Regions from separate parts of the Homo sapiens genome. Here all the other regions are linked to region 1. The links come from fine-mapping of genetic effects on gene expression. A gene starts in region 1. Each other region holds a variant in brackets. All regions are shown on one strand. Distances are from middle to middle.

Region 1 (7,587 bases):
GTTATTTGAGGGTAACATTTTTTTTGTTAATTTTCCCAAATCCCTTCCTGATGATACCTCACACACTGGCTTTTCTGGCCACAGCACAAAACTCAGCTGATTATCTACAGAGAACAGTCTACAACTCTATAATTATTCCTGTGCCACCTTCCTGGTTCTAACCGAAAGTACAGACTATTAGACATCCATAATTACGGTTGGAATAATTTCTCCTGTTAACATTATTCTTACACTTGCCCACCCAAAAACTTGGAACACTTTTCTGCCCACTGACATAATTTCAATTATGACATAATTTCAATTGTAGTTTATTTTTATTGTTCATAACTCAGAAATATTCAATATTATTTGTATACTAGGAAAGATAGTATGCCTAATCACCTCCAGAATACTCACAAAAATTAAATAAGCTATCAAATCACATTTTTAAAACTTTTTTTACAATCAAGATTTCTAAAAATTAAATAATGTTCCTATACTTTGGCCACTTTAAAAATAAATCAGATTCTTTGTTGGAAAGTCTATAAGCCAGCATTTCAATTTTTACTATAACTCTTCGAGGAACAAAATATACCCCATACTTGATGACAATCAGCAATAATCAGCAGAAGAAAAGATATTTGGAAAGAAAGACAGTTTACAACAGTGAACTTCTGAATGCAAAAAATTTCAGTGCAAAATAGTTTTACACTATTAATACTATTGCAGTCATGTGCTACATAATGACATTTCACTGACGGTCCCATAAAGTTATAATATTTTTACTGTACCTTTTCTATGTCTAGACATGTTTACATATGCAAATACCATTGTGTTACAACCACCTATGGTATCCAGTACAGTAACATGCTATACAGGTTTGTAACCTAGGAGCAATACGCCATACCATACAGATATGTAGTAGCCCATACCATGTAGATTTATGTAAGTACACGCACAATAACAAAATCACCCAACACATTTCTCAGAATGTATCCCTGTCATTAAGCGATGCATGACTGTGTATTTTATGTCTAATTCAAGTCAAACACAATTTTTTAATATTGTATTTGTAATATGAAATGAAGACGTGGCAGGGCACAGTGGCTGATGCCTGTAATCCTAGAACTTTGGAAGCTGAGGCAGGCAGATGGCTTGAGCCCAGAAGTTCAAGACCAGCCTGGGAAATATGGTAAGACCCTGTCTCTACAAAAAAATTCAAAAATTAACTGGTGCGGTGGTGTGTGCCTGTAGTCCTAGCTACTTGGGAGGCTGAGGCGGGAGGATCACTTGAGCCTTGGAGGCAGAGGTTGCAGTGAGCCAAGATAGCGTCACTGCACTCCAGCATGAGCAACAGAGTGAGATTGTCTCAAACAAAGAAAAAAGAAATGAAGACTTGTTTACTTCATTGAGTAAATGATTACTGAACACTCACTATGTGCCAGGCATGTTCTCAATATGGGGGATTCACAGGTGATAAAGACAAACATAGTTTCTACTTTTCCATTATCATGAAGCCCAAATTTTTTAAAAATTTATTTTGCAGATGTCATCAAACGAAGTCTATGTGTTATCTTGAATCATTTACATTCAAAAATACTTAATCCTGCAATAAAATGTTAAAAAGTCACAGATGTTACAGAGTCAGGGTTGAAAAAGAGCTCATTAGTTCCAAGATGCACATTATTTTACATTTTGACATCTCTGAAATCAGTCACATCTTACAATGTAATCAGACTAGACGGCAATGGAGATGGAGTTGGCACTGCCGTGCATCAAAACTTCAAAACTCAGAATGAGCACTAGGGGCTTGGAAGAAAATCCCAGGTTTGATGGTAAAGGCACCATTTTAAGGAATTTTTTTTTTTTTTTTTGTGGTAGAGATGGGATATCGCTATGCTGACTGACCAGGCTGGTCTCAAACTCCTGGCCTCAAGCAATCCTCCCATCTGGGCCTCCCAAAGTGGTGGGATTACAGGCGTGAAGCACCACACCCAGCCTTAAGGATTTCTGATGATTCAAGATTCAATAAAACATAATAGTTCAAAGTTTTCATTTATTATAGGTGAGGAAAATGAAATTCAGAGTGGTCACACAACTTGCCCTAGTTTACAAAGCTGGACAGGTAGAATAGAGTCCAGGTCTGTTTTCTACAGTCATTCACTCTTCTACCAGTGTTCAGTTATATGGAGGAAAAGGGTGTCATACAAAACAAGTAGGTAAGAAGATGGCTCTAAGTTACAAAGACGGATTTGTAACTTAATCCGTCCTTGCCTCAGTTTCTCCATCTATTAAAACAGGGATTTAACAAACCTAACTCACAGTACTGCTGTAAGCATTAAATAAAATATGTCTAGCAATTATCACAAAGATTGGCATATGGTAAATACTCCATAAATGTCAACTACTTGAGATCAAACTTTACATTTATTATACACTAAGTCAAGCCCACATATAGTTGTCTAAAGCGCTTGAAAACTAAATAAACTGGTCAAGTGTTTGAAGTGATAAATACAATGAAAATTTCCACCTTAACAATGTTTTGTCCAGGTACTATGCCAAGAACCCAATAGACCTACCTGCAAGAAACCATACAAAAAGCAAGATTCCAGGCTGGCATGACGATCAAATTATGTACTTCAATGCGTGTGAATGCATTTATAAGCACAGTCTCAATACATAAATAAGGAACAAAATATTTAAAATGTATAAACAGATCATTTCTCTTTGCTTTCTTTAAAATACTATATCAGAATCACCTGAGGAACTTGATAACAATTTTTTTAAAAACTATTATAACTACGTATATTAAGCCTTGTTAAAACCACAAGTTTTAGAGGTTTAAGCCTTACTAGGTCAGCTCTTCTGATTTTGAGAGTTTAAGTGAAAATTTAAATTATAACACAGTATGTGGAGTAAACCTGCTTCAAATATTAGTTTCTACATTATTGTTTCTATAAAAATAGTAATCTTCTGTATTTTAATATCAACTCATCACATATTAAATATTTCAGTCAAATCAAAATTTCATTTGAAATCTTCAATCTAAAAAATACACAGTTAAGCGCTTAAAAAGTAATTTTAACCACTAGGAAATGTTAATGATTAACTCACATTTGTTTCTGTTTCACTCCATGACAAAGTCTATAGGACACCCTGCAGAGAGGAAAACTCACATTAATATACCCATAATTTTACTTTCAGAAGCTTCTGGTAATCAAAGACTTATTATGAGGTGTCTTCATGTTACCACTGCGCAGTAGCAAACTTAAAATATTCTAAAGATTAATCTATTTTCTCATTTTTTTAATGCTTTTGTTAAAATCTCAACAAGTACTAACATGTTATCTAAATTTAAACCTTAAAACAATAACACGACCCAATATGTGAACTCTGCCTATTAATTCTAAAACTTTTAATAATAGTTTGCTTATGTTTGAGACTTAAAACAATAACATACTGCACTACACCCATCTTAGATATTTTCTAGGATCAAAGTCTATCTGGAGCAGGGCAAGCTGTGGTTGAGGGTGGTTGGGTCAGCAGGTAAGAGCCTTATGACCAGCTCTAAACGCCTCCACGGTGAGGAGCACCTCGAGCTAACAGACCAAGCACCAAAGGGTGGAACAGCTCAAGGTTGCATTTAGGAGACTCCAGCCTCGGCCGCCCGTGACTCCTCGACGAGCCCCACCTCTCTCGGTTCCAGCATCCGGCCCGCCCCTTCCTCCCAGGCTACCACAGTATCGCCCGCCGAGCTCCCGGGCTGCGGGAAATGACGGAAACAAAAACTTGGTACACAAAGAAGGGCTAGGTCAGAAGTGAGGTCCCACCCTGGCAAGAAGGGCGACTTTTCTAGAAAAACTTAGCGGCAAGTTAACGGGAAGCGCGGCGACACAGTTCCTACGATTGTGGGGGGCACTCTGCCGCCAGGCAGTCTCATCCTTTGTCCTTTGAGAGGCCTCCTTGAAGCCGAAGGCTCTTAAGTGTCCCTGGGCAACCCTTGACTCGATCTCCATTACGGGCCCTCACTGACAGCAGCCATGACAGTTGCTTCCGGATATATTGAATCGCCGCGGCCAGAGTCTCCCGGAAGTGACGCAACGCGGAGGGATCCGCGTTCGGCAGTGGGAGACCGAAGCGAAGTGGTTCCCGGAAGCGGCTGCAGCTGGGCTGCTGGTGGCGGGGCGGGGGTAGAGTGGGGAGAGAGGTTGTGGGTCTTACAACCAACCAACCCCAACACGTTTTACGTGTTAGGCAGGCATTGTGCTGAACACCTCATTGGCAAGCCATTTAATCCCTTCCTTACAATCCCAGCAGTCAGAAATGTATCACTTACATTTTATATATGGGGAAACTAAGGTTAAGAGAGGGCAAGTAAATTTGTCCGAGATCGTATAGCTGGTACTTGGTGAACGTGGTCTAACCCAGACACCGCGTTCTCCCTGGTGACTCCATTTTGTAAAACCAGAGCTGTTGGCGCATGGCATCCTCGTAAGCCCCTTTAAGTTAGGCACTCTGTTGCCCAGAGAGGGGCCAACTTGTAGCCAGTATGCTCTTTATGGTGAACACAAGGCCCACGTGTGTGCCTGGGTCCCCTTGGCTGAACCTCGGATTTCAATTGGTTTCTGACACCTTGCCTTTGCAGCATTCTCCGTCTGCAGCGCTGGTTACCTGAGGAAACTGTCAATGATTGCTAGGCTCTGGGGAACATTTTAGCTCCGTTTAGGCCCTTTTAAATCCAGGACTAAGACAGTTGGAGGCCTCTCACCATCACCAGATACTCTAGCTGGCCTTAACAGAGGGCCAAGGACCATAATCTTGGACTTTCCACCAGACCAAGTGTTTGTTTGGCTTCTGTTTCTTTAGAATATGACTGAAAACCAATCTGTAGTTTGTTTAGTCTTCTTTCTGCATTGACCAGTACTCACATAATAAAGTGGGACTAGCCACTAAGGCTATGTTTTTGTAAAAACAAATTATGCCTAGAAAAACACAAGAAATACATCAAAATTAACAGTGATAGTGTTTGAATAGAGAGTGATTTTATTTTTTTCTCTCTGCTTTCTCTTTTGCATATCTGCTATAAAACCCTTTTAAAATAGAAAAATAAGCAAACTGGCTATGGTAAAAACATTTTTAATTGCCTGCTGTTATAATGACGGCAAAGGCATGTTGTCACATTTTGATAAATGACCGTCCTTGATACAAATCACGTAGAGAAATCCTGTTTGACTAGAAAAGCATTGGATTTTTGTGAGTCAGTGTATTCTCAAAATTTTCGATATTTTGTTTTGGTTCTATAATCCTCACAGGAAAAGTAAAAAAGCAAATTGATGTTTTTCACACACTTTCGTATGAGAGTATGCTACCACCAAAAGTCTTCCCTAAAACAAAGTTGCAGGGGTCAAGTCATGTGGGGCGTTTGGATACTTGAAATGGTGGAGAACAAATATAAAAAGCTATTTTTATTCTGGCTGCTTTGGGGTACAGTTTTAAGCAATTTATTTCAGACTGCCAAAGAAAGCTTCATTCTTTATTCACATACTCTACTTCCCACTATTGCTTATTAGTGACTTCTAAAGCAGTGACAAAACAAGTAAAAGAAGATAGAAAGGAAAAATGAGAAGGGATCACGGGAAGAAGAAAATGTGGAGGAACAAAGACAGATGGTGATATTGGGGTTACTTTGGAACTCCAGGGTAGCATGTAACAGCCTTCTTATCCAAGTCCTGGCACAGGCCTGGTTGCCTACTAAAAGGTAAATTAGCATCTATGATGTTCCTGCTCACATACTCAGCACCCACAGTGATAAGTCTTACTAAAAATTCATCTTGATGCGCATTCAAATTAGACATATATTTTAACAAAAATGGAGGGGTTGAACAACAAGAAATGTAAAGTAAAATCCCATCATTTTTCCTGTTTTTTTATCTTACCATGTCATTCATTCATCCTGTGGTTAGTAGTATAACTATAAACTGGAAGTTTTGCCTGCAGCATTATAAAGCAACAACTATGAAACGCCAAAGTGAGGTGCTGACAAGATGCATGTTTTCCAAAGAAATGTCTTTACATTAGTCTGGCTCTGATGAGAAGTTGTTATGATGGGATTAAATGTGCAACAATTTTATTAGAGGAAACACCTGTGAGAGAGAATGGGCGGGAGCCAAGCAAGACTGGGAGAGGCTGCAAGTCTGAAATTGAGTAAAGCAGAGAGAGAGGGAAGGGTGGTGGAAGTTTCCTGGACTGCCAAACAGTCTAAGCAAGATTTAGAAAGGCTATTGGAAATCCTCAAGCCAAAATCACCTGTCAGAGGAGTCCTTCTTTCAGGAGCCAGCCTGCCTTATTATCTGTGCTGCTCTCAGTCACCGGCTGGAGCAGCCCATGGGTGAAAATGTGGCCAGGGAATTCAGAGTGCAGCAAGCATCTAGAGCCCTTGATCAGTTTTGCTCCCTGTATTGGCAGCCACAGTCCAAGAACTGGTTTTGCCGCTATTGGAACCTTTCACCAGTTTCATGGGTTAAAAGAAGATGTTGAAAGAGATGAGTTTATGAGGAGAAGTTTTGGGGAGAGCCATTGTTATATGCTTCCCCAGTCACCTTCAAGTCTAGTGAAGGGGGCTTCAATAGCAATACTCAGAGAACTTGACATGCATTTCCTGGGTTTTGAGAGGTACAGTAGTATCGTGACTCACATCTGGGAAATCCCAGGGGTAGGAGAGATGGGCCAGTGAGAATTTTGGCATAGGAGTGAAGGAAAGTTGCTATGTTGGGATCTGTAGTCACTGCCGTAGTTTGTCAAGGCAAATGATGCCTGAGTGTTTCTCGTGCAGCAGATGTGGGCCACGTGAAAAAAAGAGAAAGTTGGCCTGAGACCTTTTTGACTCTTGTGTATGGAGAGAATCTGTATGGTATGGATTGTTAGAGAAGCCATAGCTGTAGATGGAGCAATAGCTGGAGGAACAGAATGTATTGCCTATCTAGAGTGACCAACTTGTCCAGTGCCCTTGGACTTTCCCTGCTTTAGTACCAAAAGTCCCAAGTCCCAGGAATCCATGTTTGATCATTCTGTGTGTCATAGGAGTTGCAGCATCCAACGAACCTAAAAATCACCCGTGAGAGTGAGCCAAGTTTAAGTTTCAAGCAGGTCTAGAGTGTAAAACCAGCTTATGACCATGCCGGGATTAAAGTAGATTTTAGCAGAGGACAATTTGAAAATGACGCTGAAACAAAAATTTCTACACACTCTTTTTTTGGAGTGTGTATTAGTCTGTTGACACAGCCAAAATACCATAGACTGAGTGGCTTACACACAGAGATTTATTTTCTCACTGTCCTGGAAGCTCAAAGTTCAAAACCAGGGTTTTGACCAATTTGCTTTCTGGTGAGGGGCATTCTTCCTGGGTTGCAGCTGGCTGCCTTCTCACAATATCCTCATATGGCCTTTCCTCGGTACATACTCGAGATGAAGAGGCGTGGAAGAGAAAGAGAGAGAACTTTCTGGTGTATCTTCTTATAAGACACTAATTCTGTCAGATCAGGGACCCACCCTTATGACCTCATTTCATCTTAATTACTTCCTTAGAGGCCCCATCTCCAGATATAGCCA
Region 2 (7,587 bases), 110 kb before region 1:
CGGGGGGAAATGGGCAGAGAACGAGGGAAGAACGGAGTTTGCTTCAAGTCCAGATGAAGCAGAAAAATAAGCTTATGGAGACCCGGGACAAAAGACTCAGGACTCAAAAAATTTAGGGAACACTGTGCACTCAGCAAAAGTTTTAAGAAGTATTGTTAAACTCTTTGGAGATTAGATGCAGAAGACTTGGGAATGTAAGGAAAGAGGAGAAAGAACAGCTTGCTGGCCTCTTTTTCTGCTGCCAATGGTCCTTTCTTGCTGGAAGCCACTCCCACAGAGAATGGTTAAGAAGCCTCCAGGCATGAAAGGAAGAAAATCATGATATTCATCTCTACATATTCATCTCAATCTTTACCTTCTCTTTTGTAGTCCTTGAAGGATCTTAGAGAGGAGATGAGGGAGAGCACTAAGATAAGAGTGGAGTTAGGGCCGGGCGTGGTGGCTCACACCTGTAATCCTAGCACTTTGGGAGGCCCAGGCAGGTGGATCACCTCAGGTCAGGAGTTCGAGACCAGCCTGGCCAACATGGTAAAACCCCATCTCTACTAAAAAATACAAAAAATTAGCCAGGCATGGTGGTTGACACCTGTAATCCCAGCTACTTGGGAGCCTGAGGCAGGAGAATCATTTGAACCCAGGAGGTGGAGGTTGCAGGGAGCTGAGATTGCCCCACTTTACTCCAGCCTGGGCATCAAGAGCAAAACTCTGTCTCAAAAAAAAAAAAAAAAAAAGAGTGGGGTTAGCACAGATCTTCCTTTGTGTTCCTAGAGTTCCACAAGTAAAACTCAGGAAAAAACCCACAATGTGCTTCAACTGCACTTAAAACAATTCATATGTTTTTAATGCCTTTTATAAACAGATGTGCCTTTTCTTCTTGAGGGAAATGGAACTGAAGAACTCTGTCTTTTGACATCAGGAAAACTTAGCTATTCTCTATCATGGAGCTTAGATGAAAATGGTCTTCCTCTGATACCTATGCCACAATCATTAAGATCTTCTTACTGCAGGTAATAAACTTTTATCTTTGAAAAATAATGCCAGGTCTCAGCAAAGCATCACACAAAACATATTATGTGTAAAAGAGAAAACTTGAGCAGCAATAGGAAGAGTTTAGTCTATTTGAATGTTGATTTATCTTTTATTTAAATCACTCTACTAAGGCAGTATGTGTATTTATATGTAAGAGAATGTGTCCCTTCAGTGCTTGGAATTATAGCCACACAGATGATGAGAGAGGCATTCCCAGAGTCCCTCACTTGTAGGCAAAGGTCAAGACTCCCAGGGACTTTATTTCTGGGGCCTGTATATCTCCCAGTCATTCTGGATTAGCAAAGAATCATTTATGCATTATCATCATTCTGGGAGTTCCCAGAAGGGTTGGGGTTAATTTTCAGATTAATTATTTGTGGGATTACTAGAAATAAGTACAGTAAATTCTATGAAAATGATGATAATGCTGGCTTCCATAATGTGCTATGTTTGAGGGAAATGGTAAATATAAAGGAAAAAGTTTATTTCATCATTTAAAATAATGAACAATGATAACAAAAAGATATCCTCTCCCCTCCACATCTTAACACATATTTTTAAAAATAAACGGAAATGAAAAGCTTCATATAACTTATGGCATTCTAGAAAGGGCAAAACTGTGGAGACAGTAGAAAGATCAGTGGTTGCCAGAGGTTCTAGGGGGAGATAAGAATGAATAGTTGGAGCACACGGGATTTTTAGAGTAGTGAAACTATTTTGCATAACATTATAATGGTGGATACATGTCATTACACAGTTGTCAAAACCTACAGAATTTACAAGACCAAGGGTGAACCCTAATGTAAACTATGGACTTTGAGTGACAATGATGTGTCAATGTAGGTTCATGGATTGTAAAAAAAGGTACCACTCCAGCGAGGGATGTTAACAGCTGGGGAGGCTGTGCATGTTTATGGGGATGGGGTACATGGGAACTCTCTGTGCCTTTTGTTCAATTTTGCTGCAAATCTAAAACTTCTCTAAAAAATTATGTTTTAAAAATATTATAGTTTTGAAAATTGTTATACATAACTGGATTAAATGGAAAATCAAAACTGAAATTAGAGACTGTTTAAAAAAGAACAGGGAGAACATTATATATAAAAACCAGTAGCATATGGCCAGAGTCATAGTAAGAGTTCATAAATGCTTTTCTTCGGTACATAAGAAACAAAGAGAAAAAAGCTAAATGGCAGTAGCACAAGGAGATCGTTGGTATGGACGAAACTGACATAGTGGGGGTAGTTTACTTACCAAGGAGTTTGACAATAAAAAAATGCTAAAAAATAACAGAAGACAAAAGAATCAAGGTACAGATTTCTTAAAAATTGGGGCCATATTTATCTTCTTAAAAGAAGTGATTAAAAGTGATGAGCTTACAAAAGATTGAAATCAGTGGGGAAAAAGACCCAATATATTGGAAAGAGTATAAGGTCCTTCAGAGTCAGGAAGGTATCAAACCAGAACCCAAGTGAATAACTGTGGTTCTGGAGAAGAGAAACTCTCTCTTCCTCAACTCAGGGAATGGGACAGTCATCACTATGAAAACAGAAATGGAACTTTGATGGATGTCCTTGTTTTGCTAAGTAAATGAGGTCATCTTCTTAGAGACCTGGAGAAGGTCATTTTAAGAGCAAATCTTACAGTTATTAAAGGTAATTCATTTTGGAGCCAGTGGAAAAGTGTTTAATACCTAGAACTATTATTTTGTTATATTTCTTAATATTTCTCTAGCATAGTCTCCACAGCAGCTATTCCTAATCTTTGCCTCATCATAATATTGTTTGCATTTTTCTTGGAGTGAGATGTTTGTCCTCCTCACTCTGAGGCTAACTTTTATGCAGGTAATTTGCAACTCTCTTTTACAATTCTACAGACGCATTTATATCTTTTTCTTCCATTCAACTTGTCCATCTCCCTAGGCTGTTGGTCTTTTGTACCCAAAAGCCTTCTTTGTTTTAAAACAAACAAGCAAAAACTCAAGCACCTGATTAAATCCTGAAGCCCATTTTGGCTAGATTTTTCCTGCCAGAGTTCTCCTATGTGTGGCCTACTGGTCTGCATACATTCCCTCCACTTTCTGCTCACCCATTCCCTTCCTAATCCTACCCACTTGTCACTGAAGGTTACCAGCAAGTGACCTTCAAGCCATATTCATTGGCTTGTCTCCGTTGTCTTACAATTCCTATTACTTGGAAACTCAAGCTTACAAAAG[A/G]TTGAAAACAGTTACATGCAAGAGTGGGACAGATGACAGGTTTCAGCAGGAAGTAAATTGCAAAAGAGGTTTTCAAAGTCCAGGGCCCTCTCTAAGTCAAACTTTACAATTAGAGGAAGTTACAGAACTTTCCCACAGTTTTGTTGTGGCAGCTCAAGGACTGGCTCTGAGCAGTAGGTTCTAGGAATTGGGATGGGTGCTCCAGAGGGCAGGACTGACTTGTGGAAGTCAGAGAATGAAGCCAAAGGAGAACTGAAAGGCAGTTTTGTTACTCATTCATTCACTTACTCATTCATCAAACACTGACTGAACTGTAGATAAAGTAGTGAACCGAAAGAGAGTCTCAGAAAGCTTTGATGCTTTTTTTTGTTTAAGACAGAGCTTCGCTCTTGTTGCCCAGGCTGGAGTGCAATGGTGCAATCTCGGCTCACTGCAACCTCTGCCTCCCTGGTTCAAGCAGTTCTCCTGCCTCAGCCTCCAGAGTAGCTGGGATTACAGGCATGCGCTACCAAGCTCAGCTAATTTTTGGTATTTTTAGTAGAGACGGGGTCTCTCCATGTTGGTCAGGCTAGTGTCAAACTGCTGAACTCAGGTGATCCGCCTGGCTCCACCTCCCAAAGTGTTGGGATTACAGGCATGAGCCACCGCACCCAGCCCAGCTTTAGTGCTTTAATACCACATTAAACACACCTCTCCAGCTGGGCGTGGTGGCTCACCGTGTAATCCCAGCACTTTGGAGGCCAAGGTGGGCAGATCACCTGAAGTCAGGAGTTTGAGACCAGCCTGGCCAACATGGTGGAGTGGAACCCCATCTCTACTAAAAATACAAAAATTAGCTGGACATGGTGGCACACGCATGTAGTCCCAGCTACCCAGGAGGCTGAGGCAGGAGAATCGCTTGAACCTGGGAAGCGGTGATTGCAGTGAGCCAAGATCATGCCATTGCACTCCAGCCTGGTGACAGAGTGAGACTCTGTCTCAATAAACAAACAAATCAGAAAACCAAAAACAAACAAACAAAAAAAACACCACACCTCTCTAACCTAAATGATCGTTGTCTAGAGTTTTCATTTTTAAACATGAAACAGTTTTTCTTACACACACTAGTTAATGAAATTTTTAACATAGTTCATTGACTTTTATGTTTACCTTATTTCTTATTTCCCATCCTTCATTCTCGATTTACTTTTCATGCTGAAAGCATGCTCCTTTAATGATTCTTTCAGTTAGTTTCTATGGATAGCAAAATTCTTTAGCCTTTCTAGATCTAAAAGTGTCTTTATTTTGCCCTCATTCTTAATAGTTTAGGTGAGTAGAAAATTTGAGGATGTTATTTATTTCCCTTTAGCACTTTGAAGCTGTTACAGTACTGCATTATCTTGTGGGATTTATCATTGCTATTTATAAGTCTGCTATTGGTCTAAATGTTGGGCTTTTATAGGCTATCTTTTCTCTCTGATAATATTGAAATATTTCACTTTAATTCAGAGACAGAAAGTGGAATAAAGGTTACCAGGGATGGGGAAGGGAGAAATGAGGAGTTATTTTTTAATGTGTACAGAGTTTCAGTTTGGGATGAAGAAAAAAATTCTGGAAATAGGTAATGATGATGGTTATACAGTACCGTGAGTATACGTAATACTACTGAATCATACACTTTAAAATGGTGGTAAATTTTATATTATGTATCTTTAACCTTAATAAAAAAGGAAGAAACTGCCATTTGAGCCATGAAAAAAATTTTGCTTTATCCTTAAAGTACTGAAATTTTACTATACTGTATATGTGTGGATTTATCATTATTCTTCTTCCTGCTTAGCAGAATAAATTTCATGTTTAAAGCCTCACATCTTTCATCAATTACAGAAACTTCTCAGCCACTATTTCTTCAAATATTACTTCTTCCCCATTCCCACTCTTCTCTCCTTCAGGATTTCTTATTGAATTTGTATTGGAGCCTCTTGGTCTATTATTCATTTATTTATTTTTGAGACAGGGTCTCACTCTGTCACTCAGGCTGGAATGTAGTGGTGTAATCATAGCAGCCTCAAACTCCAGGGCTCAACAACTCTCCTGCCTCAGCCTCCCGAGTAGCTGAGACTGTAGGCAGGTGCCACCACATCCAGCTAATTTTTTTCTTGCTTTCTTTGTTTTCTTTTTAAGAGATGAGGAGGTCTTGCTATGTTGCCCAGGCTGATAAACTCCTGGGCTCAAGTGATCCTTTCACCTTGGCCTCACAAAGTGCTAGGATTACAGGCCTAAGCCACTGAGCCCAGCCAAGCCTCAGCCTATTAGCCACATCTCTTACCTATTATTTCACATTTTTATGTTTTTATTTCATCTGCATCCTGGGTGAATTTCTGCGTACTATTTTTTAGTTCCTTAATTCATTATTCAACTTTGTCCAGTATAAGGTTTATTTGATTTTTATGTTATAATTTTTACTTTTATTTTCTGCTGCCAAGTTTTCTGTTTGATTCTCTTTCATATCTACATTTTCTTATTTCATTTTGGCATTTTGTTCCATTATTTCTTGCATTTAAAAGTGAATTATTAGTTTTCATTTGCTTTTACATCGTAAGCATACTTCATTAAAATGTGTTTGGCAGACTTTCATAAAATGAATTTCAACTAGAATTAATTTATGTTCTGATAGTTGATAACTGTTGATTATTTTTCTGAGCATGGCTTCTTTGCTCAGAAGTTTTGGTTAGCAGTGTCATTTTGACTTGAAGAACTTTTGGGTGATTTTGATTTATACGTTTCTGGGTTTTTGGTGTTTTTTTTTTTTTTTCCTCTCTCTCCTTCTGTATCTACCCCTCCTTACCTAATGGTTCTGAATTTGACTTCATCTGTCCTCCTAAATCCAGAAGTGGGCTGTAAGCCTACTTACTGGATAGGTTGGGAGATTGGGTTGTTATACTGGGTTGCTACTGGAGTCATCACAGATCTAGGTATCTGGTGAGCTGTGAGCCTGGTTCAGTTCCTCATTATGGGGCAGTGTCTGTGTCCTTTTCCCTCTCTAGACTCATAGCTTTCTAAAAGCCATGGCCCCATGCAGTGGTCAGTATTTTTTTAAAGGTCTCTTTATCTAAGTAAAGTTCCCCCCAGATCTTTGGCTTAAAATGATAAGCCTGGTGCTAGTTCCCTGTCTCAGGAACTGAGCCCACAACCACCATGGACTGCTCCTAGGCCTGAAGCCCAGCAAGCCCACAGTGCTATCCCCACTCACCACTCTGCCTTTCTTTTCCATTTCTGGTTCACAGGAATGTTTATCTTAGCTCTCAGCACAGTTATATTTTTAACTATTTTTTAACATCTTTATTGAGATACAACTCACAAACCATAAAATTCAGCCAATTAAAACATGCAATGCAATGGTTTTAATATATTCACAGGCTTGTACAACCATCATTACAATCTGGAAATGGATGGTGGTGATGGTTGCACAACATTGTGAGTGTACTTAATGCCACTGAATTGTGTATTTTAAAATAAAGTGGTAAATGTTATGTATATTTTACCTCAATTTACAAATGTGGTGGCTGTGGCCTTGCATTTGGGTGTATAAGCCAAGGTCTTGGGGCCTGCTAGAATTAAAGCTCGCCTCTTTCTTGGGGCCATGCTATACTTTGATTCTTTTGTCAGAAACAAGATGTAAATGTCAGGGCTGCATTAGATAGACAACAACCAAAGAGTTTCCCATGCCTTTTATAAAGTACTGCTTCCAGCTCTCCATCACCAAAGTAGAAATCTTCAATCGAAAAGAAGAGGGAGGGAGGAGGAAGGAAGGAAGGAAGAGAGGAAGGGAGGGAGGGAGGGAAGGAGGGAGGGAAAAATCTTCAATCATTTGACTGGTTTTGACCCAAGAACAGCACTGCTGTGAGCCATAGCCTACAGCTAAACGTGTATAGGAGCAGCTGGGGGAATCATTGTAGCAAGGCTCTGAGATTTGTATTACTTTCTCTGAGGCAGAAACCATGGGACTATGTTGAAATTCAATTACAACTTTCTTTGTTGTTTGTTGTTGTTGTTGTTGTTGTTGTTAAAGGATATAACGGGAAAAGTTTCTAATCTATTCGTTAAGATTTAAGCTTTACCTGAGGCTGTCTTCTAGGTGATCTGGGCTAAGACTGTTTCAAGAAGGAAAATTTATTACATGATGGTGTAAAGGGTGTCAGGTCCTAGCGATCTCTTATGACATAGATATCAAAACAGTTCAAAATGAGGGCAGACATGGGAAGCAAAAGAAAAGAAGAATATGCAAACTTCACCTGTTCGTAATTTTCCTTACATCTTACCATACCACACATTGGCTTTTGCAGCAATAGCCTCAGAAGAAT
Region 3 (7,587 bases), 27 kb after region 1:
TTGATTGTCTTATGCCACTAAGTCCGGGCTAATTTGCATGCAGTGACAAATAACAAATACAGATTTTTGAGGCCTGGAGTTGGAGTGCTGCTGTAACAGAAACCTAAAATGTAATGGCTTTGGAACTAGGCAATATATGGAACATAAAATGGTGAAAACCTTGAAGAGCCTTTAGGTGTTTGTTACTAGAAACCTGATGGCATTTTAGGAAACTGCAGGTGAGGACTTAAAATGAAAGGGAGGTAAATTTTGCTGAATATTGGAGGAAAGGAAATCTTCCTTATGTAAAAACAAAGTTTAGCAAAACTAGTACCTGCAGTAACATGGAAAGTAGCAAACATACCAGATGAGCTACGTGATCTAGCTAAAAAGAATTTTCAGGCAAAGTATTGTGTGCCTCCTTGATTCTTCATTTTGCTTATAGTAAAATGTGAAAGGCGAGAATAAGCAAAAAATAGAACTGTTTTTAAAAAGTTGAGTGAGAGAAGCCAGAAATCACTGGATTTGAACATTCTCAGCCTCTCCAAATGACACAGAATGCTGAAATTAACAAATGGCTTCCAGACAAAAGTCAAATTTAAGGCACTTTGAGAAAAACCTGGTCTAACAGATGAAGCTGAGAGTGTGCCTGTAAAATCCTTTTAAAGATCTCAGAAGGATCCAAGGTGATACTTTAGATACTTTTAATCAGAGAATAAAGGTTATGTGACTCTTAGGTGTGCTGTCCCCAGCAGCATCAGTGGAAGCCCAGTGTAGAAAAGGGATCACTTCAATGAGATTTGTGGGTGTGGCTTTTGCTTAGTAGAGTAAATCCAAGAACTTTCACAGAATACCCACAAAGTTTTAAAGATACTTATATTGGTGGAAACACCACTAGCTTGGACTTAATGGGTCAGAAATAGCAAAAAGGAAAATAAGTCCTTGGATTTGGAAACATTTATAGGCATGAAATAGGCCAAGAAAATCATGCAACCAAAACCAATGATAGTGTTTCATGAAAAAGGAAGAATAACTCAAAGAAAAGAATCAAGAGCCCAGATGGTAGAGCCAAGAGATATGGAGAATTGTTCCTGTGCAGGATTAGCAGTGAATTCCGATCAAGGACTTTAAAAATTTGTCCAGGTGAATTTCAGATTTGCTGTGGACTTCCCCCATCCTTTTAAACAGGAGCATCTATAGCAGTTATCCTTTGCCTGTGCCACCATACTGTTTGACATGGGAGACACTAATAACTTGTCACTTTAGTTCATATGACTTCAGATTGAAAGGAACCATACTTGAGCTTTTATGAAAGAACTACACCCAAGAAGACTTACCCATATCTGGACCCAATATAAAGTTTTGTACTTTGAGCTCGTGCTGTAATGGATTAAAACTTTTGAGGGTGACTATTTTTTCATATGAGAGGGACATGAATAATTGGGTTAGAGAAGGTGGAATGTGGTAGCTACCCACCAAGATGACCTCCAGTGATTTTTGTTTCTTGGTATTAAACTCTTGGGTAGTCCCCTCTCATTCTGAATACAGCTGGCCTCTGTAACTCATACTTCTGAGACAATATAATAAAGGACAATGTGGCTTCCATCTTGTGTTCTTTTAGATCACTTGCTTTGGTAGAAATCAACTGCCATGCTAGGAGTATACTCAACCAGCCCAACGGAGAAGTCCATGTGACATTGCATTGAGACCACCTGCTAATAGTCAGCACTGAATCAGACACCCTAGAAGTGGATCTTCAACCTTAGTCAAGCCTTTAAATGACTGCAGTCTTAGCAAGCATCTTGACTGCTATCTCATGTGAGACTCTGTGTCAGAAACACCTAGCTAAGCTGCTTCTAGGTCCCTCCAACATAAATGCTATGAGATAATAAATGTATTTTTATTTTTTTAAGAGACGGAGTATATGTTGCCCAGGCTGGCCTTGAACTCCTAGGCTCAGCGATCTTCCTGCCCCAGCCTTCTGAGCAGCTGGGACTACAGGCATACATCACAGTGCCCAGCTTGATAATAAATGTTTATTGGTTTTACCTGCTAAGCTTTGAAGGTAATTTTTAAATGCAGCTATAAATAGCTAATAACATAATTTTTTTCCAAAACCGAGGGGGTTTTTCTCTGAAAAACAACATGAAGGATAAATATATGAAATGACATAAGAACCAAACTGCTAAAATCAAAGACAGGGAAATTTTTAAAAGCAAAATTCTGTTCATATAAAGATAAAAAACACATATTATCTTCAACAGAACAAAAATTGAATAGATAGCTGTGACTCCTCAAGAGAAACAATGAAAGTCAGAGGCACCATAAAGTTATCTTCAATGTGGTACAAGAGAATAACTGCCAACCTAGAATTCCATAACAAACGAAACTATCTTTCAGTAATGAAGGTGAAATAAGTACATTTCAAGAAAACACAAACAAAAAGCTTTATCACCAGCAAACCTACACTAAAAGATCAAGTGTTTCCCCCCTCACCCCCGCAAGCAGAAGAGAAAGGATCCCAGATGGAAGCTTGGAGTTGCAAGATATTAGGAAAGCATGTAGAAGTAAATCTGAATCAATTATGCAATTATGTCTATGTAAAGCAGTAATAACAATGTCTATTGGGGCTTATGATAGAGAGAAAATTAAAATTTGTGAACAATAGCACATAAAGTATGAAAGATGGGATTAAACTGAGTTAAAATGTTCTCTTCATTGACAAGAAAAAAGAAAAAGTACTGATGTACATTAGATATTAATAAGCCATGGGTAAATAATATAAACTATAATAAAGCACTTAAAGACAAGTAAAGAAGAGATTACTACAAAACTGATAAAAGGAATAATAAAACATCTAATCAATCCAAAAGAAGAAAAGAAAAGGAGAAAAATGATCGTGGAAGAGGTAGAAAAAACAAAAAAATAGATAGTAGATTTAAGTTCACATATATCCCTACCTAATTATATTAAGTATAAATGATCTGTATTGTCCAGCTAGGAGCAAACCGTTTTCTTAGGAAGAGAAACTATGATCTGCTGTTTGTAAGAGACAAACTGTAATGAAAGAAAAGCTTAAAGATAAAAGGTCATGTCATGTAAACACTAACTTAAAGAGACCTGGTATAGATATATATCACTCTCAGATAAAGTAAAATTCAAGAAAAAAATGTCTGACTAGAAATACAGCCCTATTTCATTAAGATAAAACTAATTTATCAGGAAGATATAATAATTTTAAAATTATATGTGCATAAATAACATTGTCTCAAAACACATAAAGCAAAATAACAGAACAACAAGGAAAAAGAGACACATCAACAATCATACTGGGAGTTTTAAAGATACTTCTCTCAGTAAGTGAAAAAATAAACAGACAAAAAATTTTTGAAAATCAATGAAGATATAGGAGTAAAAACAATGATTTAAATGCACCTAAGAGACATGCACAGAACACTATACCCATTACCATGGAATACACATTCTTTTCAAGAGCACGTGAAATATTTATAAATATTGACCATATCCAAGGCTATAAAACAAATCTCAATACAGTTCAAAGAATTGAAATTGTGGAATACATGTTTCCTGATCACAAGGGAACTGAGTTTGAGATCAATACAAAAACAACACACAGAAGTAAACAGTAGAAGAGGAAAAGGAAAGAAACACCATGTGTTTAGAAATTAAACCATACATATCAAAGTAGCCCATGTTAAAAAGAAATCACGATGGAAATTTAAAAATAGTTTGAATTCAATGTTAATTAAAATACTGCAAATCAAAAACTGTAGGATATAGCTAAAGTAGTGTTGGAGGGAAATTTATAACTTTGCATGTGTAAGAAAGGAGAATGACTGAAATCAGTTAGAGATTCCTGTCAAGAAACTAGGTACCAAGTAACAAATTAAACCAAAGGATATACAAAGAAGAAATAATATAAATAGCAGAAGTGAATAAAATAGAAAACAAATATTAAATATAGAAGATCAACTTACCCAAAAGCTTGGTTATTTAAAATGACTTAAAGAAAAAAAAAGAAAAAGAAATATCTCTGGGATAATGATTTTGAAAGACAGAGAAATCACAAATAATATCAGCAATGTATAAGGGGATATCAAAATATATCCTACAGATGGGAAAATGATTAAATTGTATTGTCAGTAAATTTGCCATTTAAGAAAAACTGGACAAAATCTAGGAAAATATAACAATAAAATAGACACAAGAAGAAATAGCTGGTCCTAGGATACGAGGGTTTTTTT[A/T]AAAAAAAAAAAAAAGAGAGAAGAAACAGCCAGAATAAATGTACACAAAATGTATTTGCAACTCAAGGATGTTACCGTTGACACACCATTGACACACACTTTGTTTTGAAGATTGCATTTTTTAAAAATCATCAAATATTACTTCATTTTTTACCTTTCATTTTAAATAAACTTTTATCCATTTTGGGGTAGTGCTTCAGTATTTTTAATGTGTTATTTTTAGTTATTGCTTTAAAAATTTTATTTGAGTGATAGGCATGTTTAAAAATGTGTTTTGCAGGCCGGGCGCGGTGGCTCACGCCTGTAATCCCAGCACTTTGGGAGGCCGAGGCGGGCGGATCACGAGGTCAGGAGATCGAGACCATCCCGGCTAAAACGGTGAAACCCCGTCTCTACTAAAAATACAAAAAATTAGCCGGGCGTAGTGGCGGGCGCCTGTAGTCCCAGCTACTTGGGAGGCTGAGGCAGGAGAATGGCGTGAACCCGGGAGGCGGAGCTTGCAGTGAGCCGAGATCGCGCCACTGCACTCCAGCCTGGGCGACAGAGCGAGACTCCGTCTCAAAAAAAAAAAAAAAAAAAAAAAAATGTGTTTTGCAATGCTGTTTTATATGTTTTCAAGTTATGTTTGAAATGTGCTTAATATTTAGCTTTTCTATTTTAAAACTTTTATTAATCTTGGAAATTTTAAAGAAAACACCCATCGTCACTAATATTTCAATACTATATGAAATAAGACACAACTCTTTCTATATTGTTATTTTGTCCTAGTTTTACAATCTCTAGTTTGCATGGTGTTGATTCTAGGAAAGGTGTTGAAAAAAAGTGTTCAAGTTTTGTAAATATTCCATTTATCTATTGTCAGCTTAAGTGCAGGAGTATATAAATTAGTTTAAGCTTACTGATTTTGTTGTTGAAATCTTCTATATCCTCACAAATTTTTTAATCTGCTTGCCCTATCAGTTTCTAAAAAAGGTGTATTAAAATCTTCCTCTATGATTGTAGATGTCTCAATTTTTTTCTTTTGTTAGATTTTACTTTATAAATTCCAATCTTATATTGTTAATTATAAGTTGAGGATTATGATACCTTATTCATTAATAGCTCCTTTTATTATTACTATGCAGTGACTATTTTCAATCCTTATTAAAGCTTTTGTCTTTAAATGATATTTTGGACTCATACTAGTATTTTTAACCTATTGTAACTGAACCAGACCAATTGGGTTCAACTTTTATGTAACGAGGTTGTGAATTGCTTTTCAGTTGCTATGGACCTCCCAGGTTCAAAGTCATGTAACCTGAGCATGCGCAGATGAACCAAGTGTGCAACCACTGGTGGAACCTAAATGCTCAGACCAAGGAACAGGGACTAAATTAAGAAGCAGACACCACTGACATCATGACCCCCAGCAGCAACTCATTGCAAGATCCAATCGGATCACCTCTCATTATCCTATACTTAAAAAAACCCGACCCAGGCTGGGCGCTGGGGACTCATGCCTGTAATCTCAGCACTTTGGGAAGCCGCGGTGGGTGCATCGCTGGAACCCTGGAGTTCTAGACCAGCCTGGACAATGTGGCGAAACCCGGCTCTACAAAAAAATACAAAAATTAGCGGGGCGTGGTGGCATGCTCCTGTAATCCCAGCTACTTGGGAGTGTCACTTCAGCCTGGGCGACAGAGCGAGACCCCGTCTGAAAAACAACAACAAAACAAAAAACAAAACAAAACAAAACAAAAACCTGGCCCAACCCCCAGCTTGGGGAAACAGGTTTGAGTGTTTCCTCCTCCCGTCTACTTGCCAGTCCAGTCACAATAACCCTTTCACGTTGCAAAAACCTGGTGCTTCCGTGTTTGGCTTTGTGTTGCACAGGCAAACTAGCCCGGTTTGGTTTGGTAACGCCGTTTTCCATTAGTTTAATATTTTCTTGGTGTATCTATCTAACTTTTACTTTCAAACTTTATAGTTTTTTTATTTTCTCTTGTAAGCAACACAGTGATGGAATTTGTTTTTGAGATATATTCTGAGGATCTATCTGTCTCAATAGGTAAGCTTACTGTGTTAAAATGATTGATGAACTTATGTTTATCATAATATTTACATTTACATTTTCTGTTTACCATCTTTTATCACTGTGTCTTTATTTTTTCCTTCCTTAGATTGGATTGAGAAACAAAATGTATTGCCTTTTGATTCCTCTCTTGGCTTAGAAGCTATAGAATACATTTCTGTTCTTTTAACAGGAACCCTTAATATTTGATGTACATAACTACATATAAATTTTTCTAACAATGTCTGTAATTACTCAATTTTTATTTTATTATTTTATTTTTTTTTTTGAGAGTGTCTCGCTCTGTTGCCCAGGCTGGAATACAGTGGCTTGATCTCGGCTCACTGCAACCTCTGCCTCCTGGGTTCAAGTGATTCTACCGCCTCAGCTTCCCAAGTAGCTGGGATTACAGGTGTGTGCCACCACGCCTGGCTAATTTTTGTATTTTCAGTAGAGACGGGGTTTCACCACATGGGCCAGGATGGTTGAACTCCTAACCTCAAGTAATCCACCCGCCTCGGCCTCCCTAAGTGCTGGGATTACAGGTGTGAGCCAACATGTGATTACCCAATATTTCTATCTTTCTTCTGAATACCACATGACTTTTATCCACTGAGCATCAAGACCAACTCTAAACCTTGTAATTGTTGCATAGCATTTTAGCTTCAACTTTTCTCGAAGATTAGAAAATGTTTTCTTGAAGAATCCATTAATTGTCTCACATATTTTGTAAGTTTCAGAACTCAACATTTCTGCTATATTTTATACTTTTCCTCTTGATTTACTTACCTTCTGGCTGAAGTTCATTATTTAATATTCCTTTGCAGAGAATATTTGGAGGTAAATTTACTTACTCTTTAAATGTGATGGCAAATATCTTTAAAATTGCCCTTATAACAATAGTTCAGCTAGCTTTGATATCCTATATACAGTCATCTTCTCTCACCACTTAAAAAAATTATGATGTTGTCTTATAATATTTATGAGGTATTGAAAAATTCTGTTTTTAGTCTAATTCTTTTGTATTTAATCTGTCTTTTCTTGCTGGTGACTTAAAAAAGAATTCTCTTTACTTTTTTTATTTTGGTAATTTTACTATGGTGTATCCAGGTATGTTTTTATTTATCCTACCCAGTGCTTGTAGCACATTTTCAAATGGGGATTCTTTTCTTTTTATGTTTTTTGTTACAATTTATTCTTTTTTTAATTTTTAATTTTTGTGGGAACATAGTACATGTATATATTTTGATACAGGCATGCAATTCATAATTACATCATGGAAATTGGGGTGTC

The links. PIP is the estimated chance that this variant, and not a neighbour inherited with it, causes the effect. A credible set is the group of variants that fine-mapping cannot tell apart.
Region 2: its variant is the best candidate, but not a certain one, in a credible set for the expression of ENTPD1-AS1 in whole blood (INTERVAL, PIP 0.86).
Region 3: its variant is the best candidate, but not a certain one, in a credible set for the expression of ENTPD1-AS1 in whole blood (INTERVAL, PIP 0.64).

What each region holds. Positions count from the first base shown.
Region 1 is chr10:96,086,173-96,093,759 of GRCh38, forward strand. It overlaps ENTPD1-AS1 (ENTPD1 antisense RNA 1), which reads right to left and starts at 4,063. Exons shown (of 6, transcript NR_038444.1): 1 at 3,810-4,063; 2 at 3,094-3,135. RefSeq lists enhancers at 3,783-4,152, 4,163-4,212.
Region 2 is chr10:95,973,150-95,980,736 of GRCh38, forward strand. It overlaps CC2D2B (coiled-coil and C2 domain containing 2B), which reads left to right. Exons shown (of 35, transcript NM_001349008.3): 17 at 860-1,007. The region is part of intron 2 of ENTPD1-AS1 (ENTPD1 antisense RNA 1); the gene reads right to left. Among named protein-coding and RNA genes, the nearest start is that of CCNJ, 67 kb to the right of the region's middle. The variant A/G (reference allele first, on the strand shown) is at 3,245.
Region 3 is chr10:96,113,197-96,120,783 of GRCh38, forward strand. No RefSeq gene overlaps it. Among named protein-coding and RNA genes, the nearest start is that of ZNF518A, 13 kb to the right of the region's middle. The variant A/T (reference allele first, on the strand shown) is at 4,245.